Linked DNA regions of Homo sapiens. The protein of the gene in region 3 interacts with the protein of the main gene of each other region in a pairwise test. Each region holds a gene or a part of one and is shown on either strand. Other genes may lie near its edges.

Region 1 (4,951 bases), on a different chromosome or scaffold from region 3:
AACGAATTAAATCTGTGGGTGTATAAGAAAAAAAATACAGGCCAGGTGCAGTGGCTCACGCCTGTAATCCCAGCTCTTTGGGAGGCTGAGGTGGGCGGATCACTTGAGGCCAGGAGTTTTGAGACCAGCCTGGCCAACATGGAGAAACCCAGTCTCTACTAAAAATACAAAAATTAGCCAGGCATGGTGGTGTGTGCCTGTAATCCTAGCTACTCAGGAGGCGGAGGCACGAGAATTGCTTGAACCCAGGAGGCGGAGGTTGCAGTTAGCCGAAATCACGCCACTGTACTCCAGCCTGGGCGACAGAGGAAGACTGTCTCAACAAAAAAGAAAAAAAAATACTGATGCAAGATGAGGTCTTGCTGTATTGCCCAGGCTGGTCTCAAACTCCTGGCTTCAAGCGTCTTCCTGCCTCAGCCTCCCGAAGTTCTGGGATTACAGGTAGGAGTCACCGCCCCCCACTGAACAGTTTGTTCTTCACTAACTGTTTTCCTGGACTGCCTTCACATTCAGCCCCTACAGAGGGGTCTTTCTGGTTCTGGGTCAGGCAGGCAACCTGAGTAGCTGCCAGGATCCAGCCACATCCTGCTGAGCTGCATGAAGGACTGTGGGGCTCTCTGGGGCCTTTGTTCCTTGTTACACTTGGAGTTGCTGGTCTCCCTTAACTGGCTTGTAGGTCTTAGCCCATCTGGGCTGCTGTAATAAAATACCTTAGACTGGAAGCCAGGCACATTGCTCATGCCTCTAACCTCAGCATTTAGGAGGCTGAGATGGGAGGATTGCTTGAGCCCAGGAGTTCGAGACCAGCCTGGGCAACATAGTGAGACCTCATCTTTACAAAAAAATTTAATTTTAATTTGTTTTTCACCCGTGACACAGCCCTCAGGAGGTCCTGAGAACATATGTCTCTCGTCTTTGCAAAAAATTGTTTTAATTAGCCGGGCGTGGTGGCACACATCCCTAGTCCCAGCTACTCAGGAGGCTGAGGTGAGAGGATAACTTGAGCCCAGGAGTTTGACGCTATAGTGATCCAAGATTGCACCACTACGCTTCAGCCTGGGTGACAGAGCAAGACCCTGTCTCAAAAAAACAAAACAGACTGGGCCATTGATAAACAACAGAGATGAGCTGCTCATAGTTGTAGAGGGTGGGAAGTCCCATATCACGGTGCTAGCAGATTCCGTGTCTAGTGAGGGCCCATCTCTCATAGATAGCACCTTTTAGGTATCTGCACAGGGTGGCAAGGACAAACAAGCTCCCCCTCTTTTATACGGGCACAGTTCGTATTCATGAGGACAGAGCCCTCCTGACTGAATCAACTCCCGAAGGCCCCACTTTTTTTTTTTTTTTTTTTTTTGGTGAGACGGAGATTTACTCTTGTTGCCCAGGCTGGAGTGCAGTGGTGCGATCTTGACTCACCGCATCCTCCGCCTCCCAGGTTCAAGCGATTCTCCTGCCTCAGCCTCCCAAGTAGCTGGGATTACAGGCATGTGTCAGCATGCCAGGCTAATTTTGTATTTTTAGTAGAGACGGGGTTTCACTGTGTTGCCCAGGCTGATCTCGAACTCCTGATCTCAGGTAATCCGCCTGTCTCTGCCTCCCAAAGTGCTGGGATTACAGGCGTGAGCCACTGCACCCAGCCCTTTTTAAATTTTTGATCAACAACTTCTTTTTTATTTTGAGATGGAGTCTTGCTCTGTTGCCCAGCCTAGAGTGCAGTGGCGTGATCTTGGCTCGCTGCAACTTCCACCTCCTAGGTTCAAGCAATTCTGCCTCAGCCTACCTAATAGCTGGGATTACAGGCGTGCACCACTGCGCCCAGCTAATTTTTGTATTTTTAGTAGAGATGGGGTTTCACCATATTGGCCAGGCTAGTCTCCAACTCCTGACCTCAGGTGATCCGCCCACCTCGGCCTCCCAAAGTGCTGAGATTACAGGCGTGAACCACCATACCTGGCTGAAAGGCCTAACTTTTTTTTTTTTTTTAGACGGAGTCTTGCTCTGTCACCAGGCTGGAGTGCATTGGCCCGATCTCGGCTCACCGCAACCTTCGCCTCCTGAGTTCAAGCGATTCTCCTGCCTCAGCCTCCCGAGTAGCTGGGATTACAGGCACGTACCACTGTGCCTGGCTAATTTTTTGTATTTTTAGTAGAGATGGGGTTTCACCATGTTAGCCAGGATGGTCTCTATCTCCTGACCTCGTGACCTCGTGATCCGCCCTCCTCAGCCTCCCAAAGTGCTGGGGTTACAGGCGTGAGTCACCGTGCCCAGCCAGCCCCACTTCTTAATACCACTACATTGGAGATAGGCTTTAGCATGTGAATTTTGGGAAGAGGCAAACATTCAGACCATAGCATCTGTCGACGGCCATGTCACAGCTTCCCTGGAAAGACATCAGGAAAGGACTGTGCCTTTGACAGTCTCTCACAGGCCCATGCTGGCTGGGGAATTCCTCAGCTCTCTTCCCTAAGAGCTGACAGTTACTACTCCCAGGAATCATCCTGCCAGCCCCCTTCCTGCAGATGGCAGGATCCACCGGCAGTGTGAGCAATTCGTCAGGTAACACTGCGGTCTCAATAGGCCCCTGACTGCTGGCTACCCACCTTGGCAGCTGTCAAAGGAGGTCGTCTGTCTGCCCAGCCACAGATAATGCTTCTGAGCCCTATTCCTGTTTGAGCCACGTTAATGTGGAACAAAACAGGGAGTTAGGTTAGGAGGAATGGAAGTAATTCTTTGTTCATTTTTTCCACGAAGGACTGTGAGCACCCACTGTGTACCTGGCCAGGTCCTAGGGGTAGAGGACACAACAGGGATCTACACAGGCAAACTCCCTGCCCCAGGGAAACTGACATGAAGCCCCAAAAAATGCCCAGTTTGGCAGGGGTGGTGGCTCGCACCTGTAGTCCGAGCACTTTGGGAGGCCAAGGCAGGAGGACCACTTGAGCCCAGGAGTTTGAGACCAGCCTGGGCAACATTAGGGAGACCTCGTCTCTATTACTAAAAAATGCACAAATAAATAATTTTTTTTTAGAAAAAGAAAAATGGCCAGCTTGCTAAATAAATCATAGGAACTCCCAAGAAGGATAAGTCAAGCAGGGAGAATCAAGCCAGGGAGTTAGTGTCGGGAAGGGCTTTGTTGGTCAGACGCAGTGGCTCATGCCTATAATCGCAGGGTTTTGTGAGGCTGTGGCAGGAGGAACACTCAGCTGGGAGTTGGAGACCAGCCCAGGCAATATAGTGAGATCACGTCTCTACCAAAAAAAAAAAAAAAAAAAAGCATACATATACATATACTTTTTTTTTTTTTTTTTTTTTTTTTTTTTCGGTTAACTGGATGGGCCGGGTGCCGTGGCTCACGCCTGTAATCCCAGCACTTTGGGAGGTGGGCGGATCACTTGAGGTCAGGAGTTCAAGACCAGCCTGGCCAACATGGTGAAACCCCATCTCTACTAAAAATAGAAAAATTAGCCAGGCATGGTGGTGGTTACCTTTAATCCCAGCTACTCAGGAGGCTGAGACAGGAGAATCGCTTGAACGATTCTTGCAGTGAGCCGAGATCCCACCACTGCACTCCAGCCTGGGCGACAGAGCGAGACTCTGCCTCAAAAAAAAAAAGAAAAAAAAAAATTAGCTGGATGTAGCTCCTGTGGTCCCAGCTATTTGGGAAGCTGAGGTGGGAGGATTGCTTGAGCCCAGGAGTTTGAGGCTGAAGTGAGCTATGATGGTGCCACTGTACTCCAGCCTGGGTGACAGAGCAAGGCCCTGTCTCCAAAAGCAAAAGAGTAGAGAAAGGGCTTTATGTGACCAGGGAGAGTATGAAGAGCTATGGCTGTCCCATTCCCATTCTAGTAGGTCCGAGAGCAAGCAGGGCCAGACTGCCAGGGGCCCCAATAAAGCATTGTAGGGGCCCAGGCAGTGTCACTTGGGGCCAAGGTAGTACAAAGTGGTTTTGAAGGAGTTGAAGATGAATCCAAGGATCTGAATGAGGAGGGCCAGAGCTGGTGAAGCTACGGCATTCACAGGTTTTGGGAAGGACTGGAGCCAGGTCCTGAAATTGTTGAGTGGAGGTGTCTGGGGTGTGTGCGAGTCTGGCATTCACAGGGAAGTCCGGGCCAAAGACTCCAGTGGGGGAGGCATCAGTGAATAGATGGTGCTTCAGGCCTGTCTTAGTCAGCTCAAGCTGCCACACAACAAAATATCACAGACTGGGTGGCTTAAACAACAGACATTTATATTTCAGAGTGCTGGGGGCTGGCAGTCTAGATGAGAGTGCCAGCGTGGTCAGGTTCTGGTGAGGGCTCTCTTCATGGCTTGCAGACAGCTGCCTTCTTAATACCACCGTTATGACCTCAATTAACCTTAATTAGCTCCCAAAGGTTTTATCTCCAGATACAGGCACATTGGGGCTCAGAGTTTCAATCTGTGAATTTGGAGGGACATACTTTGTCCATAGCAGAGCCCTGAGACTGAGCCCAGTCCCCTGGAGGTGAAAACCCTTTCTGGAAGGGCCACACTCCCCATCCACTACTGCCCTTCCTAGATCTCAGCTCCAGTGTCACCCCTTCTGGGCAAGGTCAGGCACCCCAGTGTGTAGCACATTGATCTGTGTGACCAAGGATGAATGGCCCTGTCTCCTGCTGGACTGTGAGCTCCAGAGGCAGGGCTACTTTGTCACCATTGTGGCCTGCCCAGGCAGGGACCTGGCAAATATTTATTGAGTAGTTGTTGGGAAGTCATGGAAACCGTGTGCTGTGCCCTTGGGTCTCACCAGAAGATCTGCTCAGGCCCAGGGCCAGGACTAGGCACTGTCCTGGCCAGGAAGGTCCCAGCTGCCCTGTGGCCTCCTGCCCTTGTCCCCCACACCCTCAGGGGTGCTGATATGCTGAATTTTAAGGAGAGATGATTCTCATATGGTTTTCTGCCCTTGGGGAGTTTATAGTCAAGTGGGACT
Region 2 (4,951 bases), on a different chromosome or scaffold from region 3:
CAATAAGTTCGTATATGCAGTAGCAATTTTTCTTCTAGGCTTCAGGCCAGATTTCCAACAGCCTATTGCTTGCACATAGTAGACCCGGATATCTTTCAAGCCCCAATTTTGAGCCTCCAACCTTGCCCTCCTCCAATCATCCTACTCCATCCTGTCCACCGTGGCTTCATAAATTACTAAACCAGTATATGGACCACAAGTCTTGGAATGTTCTCCCTTACTTTTGGTTCCTGGCAAACTCACCCTCCAGTAGACCAAAAAGCTATGCTTGCCATTGGGATAGGCACAGAAACGGAAGGACCAGAGTCAAGTGTGGATACTACAAAAATGTTTCTTGAAGTAGGAGAATCAGATGGATTGATTGGGAATGGAAGGGATGGTGATTGCAGAAACGGGTTCTGTGATGTCAAGTGCTATGTAAAAAAGATGTTACTGTAAAATGAATTACTTATTTTAACATTATAAGTAGAGAGGGGAATTGTGTTTAAGAGTAATGCAATTAAGGCAAAGGAAAAAAGATTCAGAGAGATGCCTGGCCAAGGTGTTTGGGTTTGATGTGATAAAAGGGCTTATGGCAGCTTCCTTTCATATTGAGATTTAAAGTGTCAGATAACTGTCATATACATTCACAGGCATCTAATTTAAGCTTCAATATATGGACCATAGTCTTTTTTTTTTTTTTTTTTTGACACTAGGTCTTGCTCTGTCACCCAGGGTGGAGTGCGGTGGCGCAATCTCGGCTCACTGCAACCTCTGCCTCAGCCTCTCAAGCGGCTGGGATTACAAGTATGTGCCACATGCCCAGCTGATTTTTGTATTTTTAGTAGAGATGGGGTTTCGCCATATTGGCTAAGCTGGTCTTGAACTAATAACCTCAAGTGATCTGCCTGCCTTGGCCTCCCAAAGTACTGAGATTACAGGTATGAGCCACTGCGCTTGGCCTGGACCATGAGTCCATGTTTCTGGTACTAGCTAAGACCCTAACTCTGGTGTCTATTCATACCAAGACATGTCCATAAAACAGCCAGCATTTCCGTAACTCTGGCATCTATTTTTCTAAAGCTAAATAATGAAACATTGTATGAAACTTTGCTTTTAAATTGTATAAATGATTCTGGATTACAAAATGGCATCTTACTTTCTGATAGCAATTAAAAATAATTGATATTATGGCCCGTCACAGTGGCTCACGCCTGTAATCCCAGTACTTTGGGAGGCTGAGGTGGGCGGATCACCTGAGGTAGGAGTTCGAGACCAGCCTGGCCAACATAGTGAAACCCTGTCACAATACAAAAAATTAGCCAGGCATGGTGGCGGGTGCCTGTAGTCCCAGCTACTCTGGAGGCTGAGGCAGGAGAATTGCTTGAACCTGGAAGGTGGAGGTTGCAGTGCAGCGAGATCACGCCATTGCACTGCAGCCTGGCGACAAGAGGGAAATGCTGTCTGAAAAAGAAAAATAATAATTGGTATTTTGAGCAGTTGGACCAACATTATTTCGTTCAACATTATTTAATATTTGTTTCCTGAGTACAAAACTCTTGGCTTTTAGTATAATGTTCAGCAAACTATTTTGATAGTTAAAAATTTTACCTTTAATATTTTCTTTCCTAGGTGCTCAATGTCCTAATGAAATGCTGTCTAAAAAAGCCTTAGCCTCACCAAGTTCTAAATCACATGAAGATATGTTGTACCCTCCTAGTGTTTTGTCCAAGAGTAGGACATCCTTTGTTGAAGACAGTGAGTTGTAATGGATGTTAGTTCTTTACTGCTGATGATCATTCTTGGGGCAATTGTTGTTGCCATTAGCCTTTTTACTTTTATTGCTGTATATGAGATCCTTTTTGGTCTTACATGATCTTACTTGTAAATGTTTGCTATTAATTATGGTATCTGAATTCTGCTTAACATGGTCTTTGGTTGCATATTTTTGCATCCACTATTTTATTATCTAAATTCTCACCACTTACCTTTTTTTTTTAATGGGACAGAGTCTCTGACACATTAGTACATCTATTGGTGGTCTTCATATTATTGGTAAATAACAAAGTATAGTAACTGGAAAAACATTCTTTTTTTATTGTTTCGAGACAGAGTCTAGCTCTGTTGCCCAGGCTGGAGTGCAGTGGCATGATCTCGGCTCACTGCAACCTCCGCCTCCTGGGTTCAAGCGATTCTCCTGCCTCAGCCTCCCAAGTAGCTGGGATTATAGGCGCTTGCTACCACGCCCAGCTAACTTATTTTTAGTAGAGATGGGGTTTCACCATGTTGGCCAGGCTGGTCTCGAACTCATGACCTCGTGATCCGCCTGCCTCAGCCTCCCAAATTGCTGAGATTACAAGCGTGAGCTCCCGCACCCGGCCTGGAAAAATCATTCTTGTTTCTTATTATCATCTCTGGAATTTTCATATGGTAGTAATACATAAAAATATTACTGCCTAACTGGTTTTGTAACGTGGACGAACCATAATTCACATAACATAACATTCTTCAAGCCATTTAAGTTGCTTCCAGTTTTTAAAGTAACTTTCAGGGAACAGTTTTATGATAATAACATTAAAATTACATCCGGGGCCAGTCATGGTAGTTCACACTTGTAATCCCAGCACTTTGGGAGGCCGAGGCAGGAGGATCACTTGAGCCCAGGAGTTGGAGACCAGCCTGGGCAACATAGCGAGACCTCATCTCTACTTTTTTTAAAAATTAAAAAAAAAAAATTACATCCTAATTTAATTAGATCCCTGTGTGCTGAGGCTATATCCCTGGTTTAATTATTTTTTTATGTGCTTTGTCTTAAGTTTAAAAAATATTTCTAATGTATGTGAACATGTTTATATAGGTATGTATGTATGTATATAAAATGGTTTATTTCTTAGAATTGCATCGTAATATCCACTTTAATTTGTCTTACTAGCGGAAACCCTTTCTGTGAGTGGGATTCCAAATGCTAGGAAGCTAGGGGAGCCTATCCGAGCAGCTATTCCTTTACATCCACCCTACCACCCTTCAGAGCCTCGAGCACCCTGCCCCATAGGAAAAGAATACTTGCATTCAAGTCACTGCTCCCCAGCCGTAAATTCTACTGGAGAGCATACGGAATTTTCTGGGGTAAGTGGAAAAGCTTACTTTCAGTTGGCTAGAAGTACACTTGTATGTATGTCTGTGTGTGTGTTGGTAATTGATTAGAAGGCCGTGTGTGTGTATGTGTATTGGTGAAGTCTTTATTCTTTGTCAAGGAAGCCCCTATATTTAAAGAAGTCTGCTAGAATTGTCAAGCATATTGCACTAGTCAAAGCATCGTACTCCTTAAAATTTGCCTCTGTATACACCTGCACATTCTTGTTCTAGGAAGATAGGAGAAAAACGAATGCATATAAAGGGAAATAATAAGAGCCAACACATAGTGAATGTTTATGTTGTGCCAGGCGCAGTTCTGGATACTTTAGGGGTATTGAATAATTTACTGCCCATAACAACTCTGGAGTAGCTACTATATTTATTTATTGTTGGGAAGCTGATGTAGAGAGGGCAAGGTTACACAGCAATTACAGAGTCAGGATTTGAACTTGGACATTCTGGCTTCAGAGTCCATATTGTGTCCGTAATTTAATAATTTCAAATTTAGAAAACACAGAGTGGAAAAGAAAATAACCATCCATGCATATTCCCATTATCCACCATGAACCACTGTTAACATATTGATCTATTTGGTTCAATTGCAGTGAGCCAAGATCACGCCACTGCGCTCCAGCCTGGGTGACAGAGTAAGACTTCATCTCAAAAAAAAAAAAGAAAAAACCTTTTTTATATAGTCATCCTGTCCTTATCTTTCTAAAAAGAACAGGACTGGGTTCGGTGGCTCACACCCATAATCCCAGCACTTTGGGAGGCTCATGTGAGTGCCAGAGTTTGAGACCACCCTGGGAAACATAGTGAGACCTTGTCTCTGCTAAAAATAGAAAATTAGCCTGGAGTGGTGGTGCATGCCTGTGATCTTAGCTACTTAGTAGGCTGAGGCAGGAGGATCACTTGAGCCCAGGAGCTTCAGTGAGCTGTGACCACACCACTGCATTCCAGCCTGGGCAGCAGAGCAAGACCCTGTCTCAAAAAGAAAAAAATAAAATAAGAAAAACAACAGGCAGGTATGTACACAGGGTAGATATATAAACAGTGATACATTTTCATTATTTAAACATTCAAGCAATGCATTAAAAGTACAGAGATGAAATAAGCATTATTAACAATAGGTGACCACATTCTCAACATTCTGTGCATCTAAACAGGAGAGGGATTAGATAAAAAGAGGTGTTAAAATGGAGTCATAAGATAATGTTTACTTTTGGGGGAATCATAGTGGGGGTTTTAGAGATATTTCTGAGTTGGTAATACTCTGTTTCTTGACCTGGGTGGCAGTTAAAGGGGAGTGTTTATTTTCAAATAATTCATTGAGCTAGAAATACTTTATTTTAAAAGTTTTATTAAAATATGATTATATTTTAGTTGCTATTTAGTAAAAGGTTGTTTGTTTTATTTTTTTTTGAGACAGAGTGTCGCTGTGTCGCCCAGGCTGGAGTGTAGTGGTGCAGTCTGCACCCACTGCAACCTCCACCTCCCAGGCAAGTGATTCTCCTGCCTCAGCCTCCCAAGTAGCTGGGACTACAGGCACACGTGCCACCACACCTGGCTGATTTTTTTTAAAAATATTTTTAGTAGAGACGGGGTTTTGCCATGTTGGCCAGGCTGGTCTCAAACTCCTGGCCTCACCTGCCTGCCTCTGCTTCCCAGATTGCTGAGATTATAGGCATGAATCACCATACCCAGCCTACTAAAGGGTATTTAATTTTACTTTAATAGAAAAAGATAATGAAGTGAAATTAAAGATATCATTAAACATTAAATAAATGGCCGGGTGCGGTGGCTCACACCTGTAATCCCAGCACTTTGAGAGGCTGAG
Region 3 (4,951 bases):
TCCAGAATCTACAAAGGACTTAAACACATCTACAAGAAAAAAAACAACCCCATCAAAAAATGGGCAAAGGATATGAAGAGACACTTCTCAAAAGAAGACATTTATGCAGCCAAAAGACATATGAAAAAAAGCTCATCATCACTGTCATTAGAGAAATGCAAATCAAAGCCACAATGAGATACCATCTCATGCCAGTTAGAATGGCGATCATTAAAAAGCCAGGAAACAACAGATGCTGGAGAGGTTGTGGAAAAACTGAAATGCTTTTACACTGTTGGTGGGAGTGAAAATTATTTCAACCATTGTGGAAGACAGTGTGGTGATTCCTCAAGGATCTAGAACTGGAAATACTATTTGACCCAGGAATCCCATTACTGGGCATATACCCAAAGGATTATAAATCATGCTACTATAAAGACACATACATATGTATGTTTATTGCGGCACTATTCACAATAGCAAAGACTTGGAACCAACCCAAATGTGCATCAATGATAGACTGGATTAAGACAATGTGGCACATATACACCATGGAATACTGTGCAGCTATAAAAAAGGAGGAGTTCATGTCCTTTGCAGGGACATGGATGAAGCTGGAAACCATCATTCTCAGCAAAATATCACAAGATCAGAAAACCAAACACCCCATGTTCTCACTCATAAGTGAGAGTTGAACAATGAGAACACATGGGCACAGGGAGGGGAACATCACACACCAGGGCCTGTCGGGGGCTGGGAGGCTAGGGGAGGGATAACATTAGGAGAAATAATGTAGGTGACGGGTTGATGGGTGCAGCAAACCACCAGGGCACGTGTATACCTTTGTAACAAAACTGCACGTTATGCACATGTAATCCAGAACTTAAAGTATAATTAAAAAAAAAGATAAAGATAAAATTATTTACAGCAGAATAGGTTTTACTAGCAAAATATTGGAAATGGCTATCTGTCCATCAACAGGAAAACAGTTAAATTATGGTACATCTACACAGTGAAGTACCATAAAGCTAAAAACGAAAGCACAAGGAAGCTATGTATGAAAGGGAAAGAGCACTGTGATAAAAAAACAGGGGAAGGGAGAATAACTAACACTCATTAGCATATGCATAAAGACACGAGAAGATTCTCAAGAAACCAGTAATAGTGCTTATGTCTGGGGGTGGGGTGTAAAGATGATGAACAGAGGCTGGAGTGGAAGACATTTTACTGCACTGTGTTCCTTTCTGCATTTTGTAATTTTAAGACTGTGTGAGTCTAGTATCTATTCAAAAAGTTAAATTAAAATGGAAGCAATTTAAAATGAGTAAGAAAAGAAATATGTGTTAAGTACTATACGGTGATATGGACCATATGGTCTCAGCATGGACCATAAAGAGTTAGTTATGTATGAGGGAGCAGGTCTAGAGCTGCTCTAATATGAGTGCCACTAGTCACAGGTGGCTCATTAAATTAAAATTAAATAAAATTAAATGTGCAGTTCCTTAATCACACCAGCATCCATTTGAAGTGCCAAATAGCCACATGTGGCTCATAGCTCCTGTAATGACAGCATAGATAGAAATTTTCACTGCTGCAGACAGTTCTATTATTACAGTGCTAATCTACAGAAAGGTCTAGAAGAGCCATCTGATGCTGTAGAAGGCCTTCGGGCAAGCAGAGGGAGCAGAGGGCTTAGTTACAAAAGGGCACAACGTCCCCAAGAGAAACTGTCTGGTGAGCCAAACTACGAGGTGTTTGGTGAAGGAAGGTAGTACACATGATGGACAGCCGAAAAAGTAGTCTGGGTCAAATAACACAGACTGTTCACAATCTGTAAAATGGAAACTCCAATTATGGAGGACCAAGAATCAGAAGAGTAAGACTGACTGCTTTCCACCTTCCCATTTATAAGTCAGCAGCCAAATTAATTATTTAGAAGTCAATTATGTAAGTTATAGGGGGAAAAAAACCCAACAACCTGATGGTTTATGGGTCCCCCATACTGTTTTGGTGGTAAAACGTTGATGTTCATTAGTTATTTCAATAGACGAGAGAGAGAGCGAAATGTAAAATGGGCCAAGGTAAGAAACCATTTAGTCTGGTTTCCCATCTTGGAGAGGAGTAACAAGAGCGCACAGGAGAGTGAAGTAGTTGTTCTCCATGGCACTGAACCAGATGCAGACACTCTCTATAATATCACTGTCTTTGCTTTCTATGTCTATAGTTAATACACATTTACACACTAAAGTATTCTCAGTCATCCAAAGATTCAATTTTAAATGTTTTACCCAATACATCATGGCAATGTGAAAAAGAACTCATTAACTAAATAGACTTTGCTTACTGTTCTCAGCTGCAACTCTAGGCGCAAGAGAGGCCACATGCACGCAGCACGCAGCGTTCAGGAGCTAACCAGCCCCAGTAGCCTTTCAAGGCAGCAATTAATCTTAATGGAGGTCAGTAACTACTGAGACTCTGTTACAGACACCCCACCCAGAGAAATGCACATGTGCACAGACACATAGCACCTTCAAACAGTGTCAGGAGGAACCGCACTTGGAGCAGACTACTAGGGATGACACAGGTGGACCCTGCTGTTAGTTCACTGCAAACATGGAGTAAGTGGCAGTGTTCCCTTCTCTGTAATAGACACCACAGTTGAAGAGTCATTTCTGTCACAAGCAGAATTCAAGACAAGAGCATTAAAATGCTTATGAAGAGTCTACTCTCATGGTAAAATTCTTATGTTAATGATGTTACATGAATAAAGCAGAATATTAAAGCCACATATTCCATATTTTATCACATTTAAGGTATCATTTGTAAGCTTAGTTGAGCTGAAAAAGGATAAATTTTGCCAATTAAACTATGACACAATTCTTTTTTTATCACATCACCTGTAAGATGCAATCAGATTTTTAAGATGCTAAAATTTAAGAAAAAGTGCATCTTAGTACTTATGATTGTGTCCATGTTAAGAAAACAATAACCACTAAACAATAGTTAATAAATGAAATTCCTAAAGGGGAAAAAATGCAGATTTTAAAAAATGCTATTCTTTCTTGGAGAAATAAGCCAGCAAAAATACATAAATAAATAAGTAAAAATTTTAAAAAAAGAAAAAAATGCTAAATGTTTACACTCAGAAGGAGAAAGAACACTAGCAAAGGAGTCAGGTGTGGTCAGAGAGAGGAGGAAAGCCAGGATAAAGCAGAACTACAAAATCCAGTGAAGGCTAACAGTTTAACAGTGACAACGTGCCTGTCACTATCTGAAGGCTTTTCATGTAGCCCTCAATGAATCCTCCACAGTTGTATGAAGTGGGTCCTATCATTACTCCCATTTTACAGACAAGGAAACATATCCACAGACAGGTTAGGTGAGCTGGCTCAATTAAAAAGGTGGTAAGCAAGGGAGTCAAAATTTGAATCCATGTAGTCTTGTACTCTGAGCCCACATTTTAACCACTATGCCCTGGCAGGGTCAGAAACTGTCTTTCCAAATCTTAAAGACCTTTCTTTCTGCTACGGCCTGGCATAGTGGCTCCCACCTGTAATTCCAGCACTTTGGGAGGCCAGGAGTTCGAGACCAGCCTGGCCAACATGGTGAAACCTGTCTTTACTAAAAACACAAAAATTAGCTGGGCGTGGTGGCACATGCCTGTAATCCCAGCTACTTTGGAGGCTGAGGCACGAGAATTGCTTGAACCTGGGAGGCGGAGGCTGCAGTGAGCTGAGACTGACATTGCACTCCAGCCTGGGTGACACAGTCAGACTGTCTTTAAAAAAAAAAAAAGACCTTTCTGACAAGATCACTGGTGATAACTAATAAATGTGATTTTTTTTAAACACTGAAGAAATAAAATGAATCTGCATAGCCCAGTGAACTACTATTTTCTAAAGAACCAGTGCCTGATGTAACCAAATCATGCATGAGTAAGAGATCCATTTGAGGTGCAAGGCAGATTAATGAATTTTCACCTAACAAGAGTACGAAAAGTTTACTGTTACCGTTTCAGATTCCAGATGGCAAATAATCTTTGACTGACTACCACTTGTTCAGTTTGGGTGTAGTATCAAAGGTAGAACATTCACAAAACAAACTCCTTCCTTTCCAACTACCTATCTGTGTGGTCAGATTTGCTTCAATTACAACAACAACTCATGATAGATTTAACGCAGAAAAAAGATATGAGAATCTTCTAGCTGTTATCGATTAAGCGGGGCATTAAAGAGATTTGCAAAAATGTAAAACAAAGACATTCCTCATTAAAATTTTGTTTTAGAAAATAGTTATTGTTCATAAAAATGTTACTTACAGTAACACGTGATAGGTTTTTTTTTGTTTTGTTTTGTTTTGTTTTGAGACAGAGTCTTACTCTGTCCCCCAGGCTGGAGTACAGTAGCACGATCTCAGCTTACCGCAACCTCTACCTCCCAGGTTCAAGTGATTCTCCTGCCTCAGCCTCCCGAGTAGCTGGGATTGCCAGTGCCTGCCGCCACGGCCGGCTAATATTTTGTATTTTTAGTAGAGACAGGGTTTTGCCATGTTGGCCAGGGTGGTCTCGAACTCCTGACCTCAGGTGATCCACCCGCTTTGGCCTCCCAAAGTGGTGGGATTGCAGGCATGAGCCACTGCACCCAGCCTTTTTTTTTTTGAGACAGCGTTTCACTCTTGTTGACAAGGCTGGAGGGCAATGGCACAATCTCAGCTCACTGCAACCTCCGCCTCCAAGATTCAAGCAGTTCTCCTGCCTCAGCCTCCCAAGTAGCTGGGATTATAGATATATGCCACCACACCCAGCTAATTTTTTGTATTTTTAGCAGAGACAGGGCTTCACCATATTGGTCAGGCTGGTCTCGAACTCCTGACCTCAGGTGATCCACCTGCCTCAGCCTCCCAAAGTGCTAGGATTACAGGTGTGAGCCACCATGCCTGGCCAGGTTTTTTTTTTTTTTGAGACGGAGTCTCG
Region 4 (4,951 bases), on a different chromosome or scaffold from region 3:
TCACCTTGGGTGAATTTCCTTTCCAGTGTGTAGTTTTCTCCTCTGCAAAATGGGAAAGCTCACATCTGAAAGAGTAAAAAGAATACTGTGCAGACACAGAGAGTATTATACGAAGAACAGAAAGGTCTAGCTCTTTTGTCTGGCTCATAGGTTCAAGACAAACGCATTAAATCTGCATTATGCCTCTCCATAAAGCCAGTAGAGAGAAAGTGACAGAACTCCTTTGGAAGCTTCCAAGGATTTGGGCAGGAGGAAGGTGACAGGCAGAGATTTCCTGAGGAGAACCGTGATTCTTATAAGGCCCTCATGCTCCTGGCCTGCCTTTTACAAGCCTTGTGTGAATCGTGTTTTCTATGCCCCTTTTGGGATGTGTCAGTGCCTCTGCTTGTCCTATTTTTCCTTAACTTTTTTTTTTCTCACCAGAATGTCCCTCTTCCAGTGGAAAGCCCAACCATGCAGACATCTTGCTCATAAACTTACAGTATGTTTCAGAAGTGGAAATAATTAATGACCGAACAGAAACCCCTCCTCCCCTAGCTTCACTCAATGTTAGTAAGGTAAGGACTCAAGGGCAGATCTGGCTCTCTAAAATGGTGGGAAAGATGAGTCTCATTGAGTCTTAGTGATACATTGTTGTCTATTTTTTATTTTTTAAAATTGACTTAAAATTGTTTGTTCTGATATCTTTTTAAAAAATGTAGGTTTAGTTTTTCTCTTTATTCCTGGATGTTATCAGTAGATCTTAAGAAGTAGCTTAACTCCCAAATAAGTTGAGAGCTTGCTTCTGCCTTTATGAAAGAGGACTTTTTAAATCTTGGAGTTCATGATGAACTAATAGTGCTGCTGGGGTTTGGGTGGTGGCGTTACCTATGAATGTCTTCAAATTGTGTATATGTGGATGTGTGCATACGTGAATATATGCATTTTCTGCTTGAAGATCTAAAGTGTTTTTCAGATTCTCGGAGGGTTTCATGACTTAGAAAAGTTTGAAAGCCACTGTCTTAAAGGTTCTTTTTTGTCTTTATGTTTGAATTTTGAGTTCTAACAGTTACATGCTTAGCATATTTTAATCTTGCACATAAAAGTTGATCTCTGGGAACCCCCAAGTCACTTTTGTGTGTGTATGTGTGAGACAGGGTCTTGCTTTGTTGCCCAGGTTGAACTTGAACGCCTGGGCTCAAGTGACCCTCCTGCCTCGGCCTTCTGAGTAGCTGGGATTACATGCATGCGTCACCATGCCTGCCCAAGTCTTTCTTTTTATTGGAGCCACTGCGCCCGGCGTTTTTTTTGAGACAGAGTCTCTCTGTGTCGCCCAGGCTGGAGTGCAGTGACGCGATCTCGGCTCACTGTAACCTCCGCCTCCCAGGTTAAGTGATTCTCGTGCCTCAGCCTCTGGAGTAGTTGGGACTACAGGTGTGTGCCACGACGCCTGGCCAAATTTTTTTTTTTTTTGGAGACAGGCACACACTGTCACACCCGGCTAATTTGTTTTATTTTAGTAGAGACGGGGTTTCATTCTGTTGCCCAGGCTGGTCTTGAACTCCTGAGCTCAGGCAGTCTGCTTGCCTCGGCCTCCCAAAGTGGTAAGATTATAGGTGTGAGCCACTGCTCCTGGCTCAATTTTTGTATTATTAGTAGAGATGGGGTTTCACCATGCTGGCCAGGCTGATCTTGAACTTCTGACCTCAAGTGATCTGCCTGCCTCAGCCTCCCAAAGTGCTGGGATTACAGGTGTCAGCCACCATGCCCGGCCCTAAGTCACTTTTTTGACAATTCCGTTTATTTAGTCAAAATTGAAGTTGATCATAATAATGCCTCAAGCCCTGTCATAGCCTGTGCTGTCCCCTGTACTTGGAACATTTTTCCTTCCAGAATGACTGGAGCCTTACCACCCATCAGCACTCAGTTAAATGGCACGTCTTCCAAGAAGTCTTCTCTGATCACCCAGGCTGAAGTAATTTGCCTGCATTATTCTCTCTCATAGTACCTTGTCCTTCACAGTTAAGGTGACCATATCATTTGTAGTCCAACCTGGGACATTTTTGAGAGTAAAGGGGAATGCTTTTATTTTACACAGGGACAACAGGTATAGATTAGGTTACCCTATTCATAGCTTTTTTTTTTTTTTTTTTTTTTGAGACGGAGTCTCGCTTTGTCGCCCAGGCTGGAGTGCAGTGGCGCCATCTCAGCTCACTGCAAGCTCCGCCTCCCGGGTTCATGCCATTCTCCTGCCTCAGCCTTCCTAGTAGCTGGGACTACAGGCGCCCGACACCACGCCCGGCTAACTTTTTTGTATTTTTAGTAGAGACGGGGTTTCACTGTGTTAGCCAGGACGGTCTCGATCTCCTGACTTTGTGATCCGCCCGCCTCGGCCTCCCAAAGTGCTGGGATTACAGGCGTGAGCCACCGCTCCTGGCCATAGTTGTTTACTTGTCTAGTGTCTGTCTCACTAAACTTTATTCTGCAGGGATGGGGACCATACCTATTTTATTTACTATTGAATATACAGAGCCTTGCACAGAGTATTTAATAAATATTTGTTGGATGAATAAGATGCCTCCAATTTTAGTAGCAGGTGCTTTTCATTAAGTCTCTTGAATTAATGTGGTGGAAGTTTTTCCCTCTAGAGGAATCTTGCAATAATGTGTATTACTTTGCCTCTCTTGGGAATGTGGTGTGTTCTGTACAGTTCAGCAAAGCAAGGAAACACTTAGGCAACTAAAATAATAGAGGGTAACTGATGCTGAGGCTAGTGAATGTCGTTACCTCAGATCTGGAGTTCCTATCTTGTCAGATTCTAGGGAAATGCCACACATTTTTTAGTGATGGCCAGGGACAGATTTGGAAGGCTATTGAGTTCATATGGGTGTTGTCTTGTATGGGATGTCCCATTCTTTGAAGCTTATAGGTTTTTGAAACCTTGGCTTAGTAATATACCTTCTACCAGAGTATAGGAGCTCTTTGAGTGTCTTCTATAAGCTCATGAAATTTTAAGACTTGTTAAATAATTTATTCCTTGGTGTTTTTTTTTTTTTTTTTTGAGATGGAGTTTCGCTCTTGTTGCCCAGGCTGGAGTGCAATGGTGCAACCTCGGCTCACCGCAACCTCCGCCTCCCGGGTTCAAGTGATTCTCCTGCCTCAGCCTCCTGAGTAGCTGGGATTACAGGCATGCACAGCCACACCCAGCTAATTTTGTATTTTTAGTAGAGACGGGGTTTCTCCGTGTTGGTCAGGCTGGTCTCGAACTCCCGACCTCAGGTGATCCGCCCGCCTCAGCCTCCCAAAGTGCTGGAATTACAGGCGTGAGCCACTGTGCCCAGCATTATTCCTAGTGTATTAAAGAACCAAATAGGCTCTGAGTTATTTTTTGGTGTTTATAGGGTATGATAAGTCTGTCACTAGATCTTTAGTGAGTAGTAAAGATCTGAAAGAGAGGTGATTTTCTGAAGTTAGAAAGTTGGCTCTTGTGACCAATGAGTGCCACCATTTAGAGGGGGTGGGGTAGTGTGGATGGGACTGTTAAGCAGGAGCTGTTAAGAAGCAGTTCTCTTCTTATGTTTGACCTCAGGTAGATATAGCTCTTGGTTAGTTTGTGGATTATCTTTGCCTTTAGGGTTTTCCTTGTTTACTAGCATTGTTGTAAACTAGCTGATTACCCAGTTTTTGAGGAAAGCAGCAGGAAGTAATAGCTTGGGGAACACCAGAAATCTTTACTTTTCTTACTCTGTGGCCTGCTTGCCAAATCTTGAAAGAGGTTTGCTGGGAAGAGGAGTCAGAAACTAAAAACTAAAATTAGGTTGGAGGGTTATCTTTGGATTTCGTTTATTCATTCTTCCGTTTGCAGAGATGTTTATGAGTAAGCTATATTGGCTTTCCCTTGAAATCAACCTTTTAGGATGCTTTGCGATTCCTTTTTGGAGATTGACTTAGAATTAGAGAGAGCCTTTTGGGCTACTGCTGAAAACAGCTATTTCGGGCAGCTATTAACATGTTGCATGAATGACGTGAAAAGTTAGTCTCATTTTTAAGATCACGGACTTGAGTTTTTCTTAAGATGGAGGATCATTTAAGCATATGGAAGGGAACTAATGTACTCTGGGATGTCTGGAAGAAAACTGTTGAAGTTTCAGTTGCTTGCAGTCTGGAGAAGCACTAGCCTACTCTATTTATTTTATTTTATTTATTTATTTTTTGAGACGAAGTCTTGCTCTGTCGCCCAGGCTGGAGTGCAGTGGCGCCATCTCGGCTCACTGCAAGCTCCACCTCCCGGGTTCATGCCATTCTCCTGCCTCAGCCTCCCGAGTAGCTGGGACTACAGGCGCCCGCCACCATGTCCGGCTAATTTTTTTGTATTTTTAGTAGAGACGGGGTTTCACCATGTTGGCCAGGATGGTCTCGATCTCCTGACCTTGTGATCCGCCCGCCTCGGCCTCCCAAAGTGCTGGGATTACAGGCTTGAGCCACCACACCCGGCCTACTCTAACTTTAGTCAAAGGTATCATCACATATTGGCCCATCTTGCTGACATAGTAAGTGATCTGCTTAATTAAACCTGTTGATAAAAACCGGATATTTGTTGACTCTGACCTAGCAGGAAATGGAAGAGAAGGGCTTATACAGGAAATACTTAATAATAGCTCAACTAGGGAAGGTATAAACTAGCAACTTCTTGGAAATTGGCCTGTTTTGCTTTCGAATGATAGTTCACTTCAGGCTAAGAAGTCTTATTTCTATCTCCAGCAGTAGCATGTAAGAGGAAGCTTGAGAGAGGACAGTAGGGTTGCAGTAGGGGGAATTCTTTTTTTTGAGACAGGGTCTCAGTCCATTGCCCGGTGTGATCTCGGTTCAAGCGATTCTCCTGTCTCAGCCTCCTGAGTAGCTGGGATTACAGGCGCCTGCTGCCACCATGCCCGGCTAATTTTTCTATTTTTAGTAGAGATGGGGTTTTGCC

What was found. The genes of interacting proteins can lie anywhere in the genome.
Region 1: the proteins of LSM3 (region 3) and NACC1 interact in binary tests that used the Homo sapiens proteins (3 or more experiments, as listed by UniProt).
Region 2: the proteins of LSM3 (region 3) and CEP95 interact in binary tests that used the Homo sapiens proteins (3 or more experiments, as listed by UniProt).
Region 4: the proteins of LSM3 (region 3) and LSM12 interact in binary tests that used the Homo sapiens proteins (3 or more experiments, as listed by UniProt).

Annotation. Positions count from the first base shown.
Region 1 is NC_000019.10:13,124,078-13,129,028, forward strand, and holds part of NACC1 (nucleus accumbens-associated protein 1), read left to right. Parts: intron 1-4,951. UniProt on the Homo sapiens protein: Functions as a transcriptional repressor. Seems to function as a transcriptional corepressor in neuronal cells through recruitment of HDAC3 and HDAC4. Contributes to tumor progression, and tumor cell proliferation and survival.
Region 2 is NC_000017.11:64,519,791-64,524,741, forward strand, and holds part of CEP95 (centrosomal protein of 95 kDa), read left to right. Parts: intron 1-1,611; coding exon 1,612-1,737; coding exon of another isoform or gene 1,738-1,753; intron 1,754-2,911; coding exon 2,912-3,105; intron 3,106-4,951.
Region 3 is NC_000003.12:14,184,743-14,189,693, reverse strand, and holds part of LSM3 (U6 snRNA-associated Sm-like protein LSm3), read right to left. Parts: intron 1-4,951. UniProt on the Homo sapiens protein: Plays a role in pre-mRNA splicing as component of the U4/U6-U5 tri-snRNP complex that is involved in spliceosome assembly, and as component of the precatalytic spliceosome (spliceosome B complex).
Region 4 is NC_000017.11:44,059,407-44,064,357, reverse strand, and holds part of LSM12 (protein LSM12), read left to right. Parts: intron 1-423; coding exon 424-557; intron 558-4,951. UniProt on the Homo sapiens protein: Nicotinic acid adenine dinucleotide phosphate (NAADP) binding protein. Confers NAADP sensitivity to the two pore channel complex (TPCs) by acting as TPC accessory protein necessary for NAADP-evoked Ca(2+) release.